Regions from separate parts of the Homo sapiens genome. Here region 2 is linked to region 1. Evidence: fine-mapped expression QTL. A gene starts in region 1. The other region holds a variant in brackets. All regions are shown on one strand. Distances are between the middles of the regions. Region 1 holds the start of EMP3 (epithelial membrane protein 3 (MAM blood group)). Region 2 overlaps ZNF114-AS1 (ZNF114 antisense RNA 1).

The links.
Region 2: its variant is fine-mapped to the expression of EMP3 in whole blood (TOPMed, PIP above 0.99).

Annotation. Positions count from the first base shown.
Region 1 is chr19:48,323,712-48,326,544 of GRCh38, forward strand. EMP3 (epithelial membrane protein 3 (MAM blood group)) reads left to right here and starts at 1,841. Exons shown (of 5, transcript NM_001425.3): 1 at 1,841-1,899. RefSeq lists a silencer at 856-1,087 and enhancers at 1,665-1,714, 2,315-2,364, 2,655-2,724.
Region 2 is chr19:48,266,704-48,269,611 of GRCh38, forward strand. All of the region lies in intron 2 of ZNF114-AS1 (ZNF114 antisense RNA 1), which reads right to left. Among named protein-coding and RNA genes, the nearest start is that of ZNF114, 1.9 kb to the right of the region's middle. RefSeq lists an enhancer at 390-439. The variant G/C (reference allele first, on the strand shown) is at 1,230.

The sequences.
Region 1 (2,833 bases):
CACTTCCTCTCCCCCCGACGCCCCCCCACCACTCCCCAACCCCAGCGTTCAAATGACTCCTGTCTTCAGCTCAAATGTTACCTCCTCCAAGAGGCCTTCCCTGATTTTCCTGTTTCAAGTAGTCTTCCCTGCACTCTGTCATTATCTCCATCACTCTGTTTGATTTATTATTGTATTTATTTTTCTTTTCTTCTTTTATTTTTTTTTTTCTTTAAGATGGAGTCTTGCTCTGTCACCCAGGATGGAGTGCAGTAGCGTGATTTCAGCTTACTGCAACCTCCGCCTCCCGGGTTCAAGCAATTCTCCTGTCTCAGCCTCCTGAGTAGCTGGGTTACAGGCGCCCACTACCATGCCTGGCTAATTTTTGTATTTTTAGTAGAGACAGGGTTTCACCATGTTGGCCAGGCTGGTCTTGAACTCTCGACCTCAGGTGATCCTCCAGCCTTGGCCTCCCAAAGTGCTGAGATTACAGGCATGAGCCACCACGTCCAGCCTATTGTATTTATTTTTCAAGTCACTTATCCTTATCTGAGATTTATCTTCATCATTGATGTTTTCTCTTGTCTGTCTTCCTCTACTAGAATACAAGCTCCATAATACCAGCAGGGCTCATGTCTGTTTTCATTATTAACTCCCAGATCAGAGTACATGTTCAATAAATGTTTGATGAAGGAAGGAACAGGTTAGGTGTGTGAGTGTGCCAGTATTACCTTATTCATTCAGCATAAGTATCAGAATTATTATTATCAGTATTAGTATTTTGTCAGCATTATTATACTCTCAACATAGACTAAGATACTGGAGCCCAGGTGGGTGAAATAATTGGCTCAAGGTCACTGAACCAGGAAATGATGGCGCTGGGATTCTTAGCTTCCGCTTCCTCCCCGCTTCCAGAGTTTCACAAGGTTTTTTTTTTTGTTTGTTTGTTTTTTGTTTTGTTTTGTTTTTTTTTTGCGACAGAATCTCACTTTGTCCCCCAGGTTGGAAGGCAGTGGTGCAAACTCAACTCACTGCAGCCTCCACCTCTCGCGTTCAAGCGATTCTCATGGCTCAGCCTCCCAAGTAGCTGGGATTACAGTCGCCCGCCACCACGCCCGGCTAATTTTTGTATTTTTGATAGAGACGGGTTTCCACCATGTTGGCCAGGCTGGTCTCGAACTCCTGACCTCAGATGATCTGCCCGTCTCGGCCTCCCAAAGTGCTGGGATTACAGGCGTGAGCCACAACGCCCTGCCGAGTTTCACAAATTTCATCTCCCATCCTCTGACCCCCCACCACGGGGCCAACTTCACCAGCCCAATCTCAAGTCCATGCCACAGAAATCTGGCCTCTTTTCCCAGACTCCTATCCAGCTCCAAGCTCCATCAGGGAAAGCAGACATCCGGCCCCAGGGCAAGACCTCAAAACTCAAGGGTCCTGAGAATCGGGCCCTCCCACCCCTGACGCTTGCCCCCCCCAAGAACCCCATTCCAAGAGTTTCTCATCTCAACCCTGGGAGGGAGCCCCAGATGATGTCTGTCTGGAGGGATTGGGTGGGGGCCCAAAGAAAGAGGAACCGGAGTGCCTGGGCCCTCCCACTGGCAGCCGACCTCAGCTGGGTGCGGTGAGGGTGGGTTTATAAAAGGGTCAGTATATATTGAGAGGAGGAGAGAAAGAGAAACGGGAGCAAGAGAGAAGGAGGCCCAGACAGTGAGGGCAGGAGGGAGAGAAGAGACGCAGAAGGAGAGCGAGCGAGAGAGAAAGGGTTCTGGATTGGAGGGGAGAGCAAGGGAGGGAGGAAGGCGGTGAGAGAGGCGGGGGCCTCGGGAGGGTGAAAGGAGGGAGGAGAAGGGCGGGGCACGGAGGCCCGAGCGAGGGACAAGACTCCGACTCCAGCTCTGACTTTTTTCGCGGCTCTCGGTAAGTTTCCAGTCCGTTATTCAGGGCTGGGACTTCTTAATTTACTTGGGAATGTAGCAGTTTGGGAAGGACACCCCCAGGCTGGGAGAGACGTCCCTGACTCTTGGAAATCCTTTTAATTTAATAAGTGATCTCTTAGCACTTGAGGTGGGGATATGGGAAGGGGTGGGGCCCGGCAAAGTTTTGGGGTCCCAGCAGAGCCCTCCACTGGAAAACTTCCTGCAGTTTTTCCCTCAGCGGTGTCCACTGTCCTCTGGGGTCCCTGAGATCAGGGCATTGCATGAGAACACCCCAAATCTGGGAGACCTCTAGGTCCCCTGTTCCTGGGCACCAAAGAGTCCTGGGAGGCTAACTCCTTCTTGGGCCTCTCTTCCCCCCAGCGCGAATCCTATCCATTTCCTCCAGAAGATGTCCAACAGTCACCAGTCTGGCAGCAGGGTGGGGTGAGGACCTCGTGGACATAGCCAGGGGCTGGGGTTTCCCTGGTGCTTAGAGATGGGGGGGGGTGGGGATGAGTCACCAGATGACTCACCAGGTCCCCCTCCTCCCCTCAACCCAGGAGAGGAGTGGTGTGAGTCAAGAATGCCTGTTGCTGGGGGCAGCTCCTCAATCCTGATGTCGGGGTGCAGGGTGGGGTCTCAACTTGAATTTTCACTATCTGGCCTGTATGTAACCCAGAGTCAGGGTTCTGGGGAGAGAGGAGCCACATTGCTAGTCCTCCTCATTCAAGGAACCCAAGAGTCCATCTTTGGCCCTCTCCACCCCTCCAGCCAATGGGGATCTCAGGAATCCAGGCCCCAGCGGTCTCCTCCCTGAGAGACCCAGGAGTCTGCACCCATGCCCTTCCTCCATCAGGAGACATCTCACCTGCCTTTATGCCAAATTTTTTTTTTTTTTTGAGACGGAGTCTTTCTCTGTCACCCAGGCTGGAGTG
Region 2 (2,908 bases), 57 kb before region 1:
AAAGATCCACCTAGCAGTGAAGGCATAGGTGAAACGGGATATTGAGGATACCAGAAAAGAAGCAGGTTTTTTTGTGGTTTTTTGTGGGTTTTTTTTTTTTTTTTTTTTTTGAGACAGAGTCTCGCTCTGTCACCCAGGCTGGAGTGCAGTGGCGCAATCTTGGCTCACTGCAACCTCCGCCTCCTGGCTTCCAGCGATTCTCCTGCCTCAGCCTCCCAAGTAGCTGGGATTACAGGCGTCCACCACACCCAGCTAATTTTTGTATTTTTAGTAGAGACTGGGTTTCACCATGTTGGCCAAGCTGGTCTCGAACTCCTGATCTCGTGATCCGCCCGCCTCAGGCTCCCAAAGTGCTGGGATTACAGGCGTGAGCCACCGCCCCTGGCCAAGAAGCAGGTTTTTGAAGGGAGAGGATGAGAAAACAAGGGAAGGGAAGCACTGCTGGAGATGAAGACCCAGAGAAAATAGAAGGGAATTGGACACCTACAACCACTAGAGGTCGCAAGAGGAATATCCTTTAGTGCCCTGAGCCCAGACCTGAACCAAGGTTTAACAGGGTTCTTCTCAAGTCCTTGGACTCCTTCGGTCATAATTTGGGAGCCTCCAAAAAGGAGAGCCTGAAATGAGGGCTTACGTGCAGGTAGTTTATTTGGGGAAGAGGTCAGAAATTTTCTTTTTTTTTTTTATGGAGTTCCGCTCTTGTTGCCCAGGCTGGAGTGCAATGGCACACTCGGCTCACCGCAACCTCCGCCTCCCAGGTTCAAGCGATTCTCCTGCCTCAGCCTCCCGAGTAGCTGGAATTACAGGCATGCGCCACCACGCCCGGCTAATTTTGTATTTTTAGTAGAGACGGGGTATCTCCATTTTGGTCAGGCTGGTCTTGAACTCCTGACCTCAGGTGATCCGCCCACCTCAGCCTCCCAAAGTGCTGAGATTACAGGTGTGAGCCAACGCCCCCAGCCCGAGGTCAGAAATTTTCTTATGTCACATTGTACTTTTTTTTTTTTTTTTTTTTTTTTGAGACAGAGTCTCACTCTGTTGCCCAGGCTGGAGTGCAGTGGCACGATCTCGGCTCACTGCAACCTCTCCCCGTCAGGTTCAAACAATTCTCCCGCCTCAGCCTCCCGAGTACCTGGGACTACAGGCATGCACTACCATGCCTGGCTCATTTTTGTATTTTTAGTAGAGACGGGGTTTCACCATGTTGGCCAGGCTGGTGTTGAACTCCT[G/C]ACCGCAGGTGATCCGCCCGCCTCAGCTTCCCAAAGTGCTGGGATTACAGGTGTGAGCCACCATGCCCAGCCATACATTTTACTTTTGAACACTACATACCGTGGAATACTTTTCAGACTTTAAAAGGAATGAAATACTGATACATGCTTCACCGTAGGTGAACTTGGAAAACATTGTGCAAAATTAAATACGTCAGACACAAAAAGGCAAAGGCCGAGTGATTCCACTTCTAGGAGATTCCTAGAACAGTCAAATTCCTGGACACAGAAAGTAGAACAGAGCTTACCAGGGACTGAGAGAAAAAGGGAATGGGGTGTGATTATTTAACGGGTACGGAGTTTTAATTGGGAAAGATGACAAAGTTCTGGAGATGAATCGTGATGATGGTTACACAGCGATGTGGCTGTACTTAATGCCACTGAAGTGTACACTTTAAAATGGTTCACATGGAGGCCGGGCACGGTGGCTCATGTCTGTAATCCCAGCACTTTGGGAGGCCGAGGTGGGTGGATCACGAGGTCAGGAGATCGAGACCATCCTGGCTAACATGGTGAAACCCCATCTCTACTAAAAATACAAAAAAAATAGCTGGGCGTGGCAGATGCCTGTAGTCCCAGCTACTCAGGAGGCTGAGGCAGGAGAATGGCGTGAACCCGGGAGGCAGAGCTTGCAGTGAGCCAAGATCGTGCCACTGCACCTCAGCCTGGGTGACAGAGGGAGAGTCCGTCACAAAAAAAAAAAAAAAAATGGTTCACATGGAAATGTTTGTGATGTATATTTTATCACCGTAAAAAAATGTAACTGGGGTAAGTATGATCAATATTTGGCAATTTAAGCTTTATGGTAGAATTTCATTACTAGAGTGAAGAAAGACAGTCCATAAAAAATAAATTATTTAGGCCGGGGTGCAGTGGCTCATGCCTGTAATCCCAGCACTTCGGGAGGCCGAGGCAGGTGGATCACCTGAGGTTGCGAGTTCGAGGCCAGCCTGACCAACATGGAGAAACCCCGTCTCTACTAAAGACACAAAACTTAGCCAGGCATGGTGACGTGTGCCTGTAATCCCAGCTACTCGGGAGGCTGAGGTGGGAGAATTGCTTGAACCCGGGAGGCAGAGGTTGTGGTGAGCTGAGATTGCGCCATCGCACTCCAGCCTGGGCAACAAGAGCGAAACTCCGTCTCAAAATAAATAAATAAATAAATTATTTAATTGACCAGATAGGGACTCCCAGCCCTTCCTTCCTGGGGAGCTCCAGGAGCTGGCTGGGCTGGGCTTAATCTTTCCTCCCAAAGAACCAAAAGAAAAAGAGATGCACATCAAGGTTTGCTGGGGACCCTCAAAGGAAAAGAAACGATGTAACTCGAGTAGAGGATAAACGCTTTGTTCAGCTGATTTGCATCAGGGGCACCTGAAGATCAAGCGACTCCCCAGTTAAGCAGAGTCAGGGTGGGAAACTGAGTCTGTGTCCTAGAGGTCTGGGTTTAGGCAGTCATTTTGGGTTTTGTTTTGTTTTGTTTGTTTTGAAACGGAGTCTTGCTCTGTCACCCAGGCTGGAGTGCAATGGCGCTATCTCAGCTCACTGCAACCTCCTCCTCCCAGGTTCAAACGATTCTCCTGCCTCAGCCTCCCGAGCAGCTGGGATTACAGGTATGCACCACCATGCCCAGCTCGTTTTTG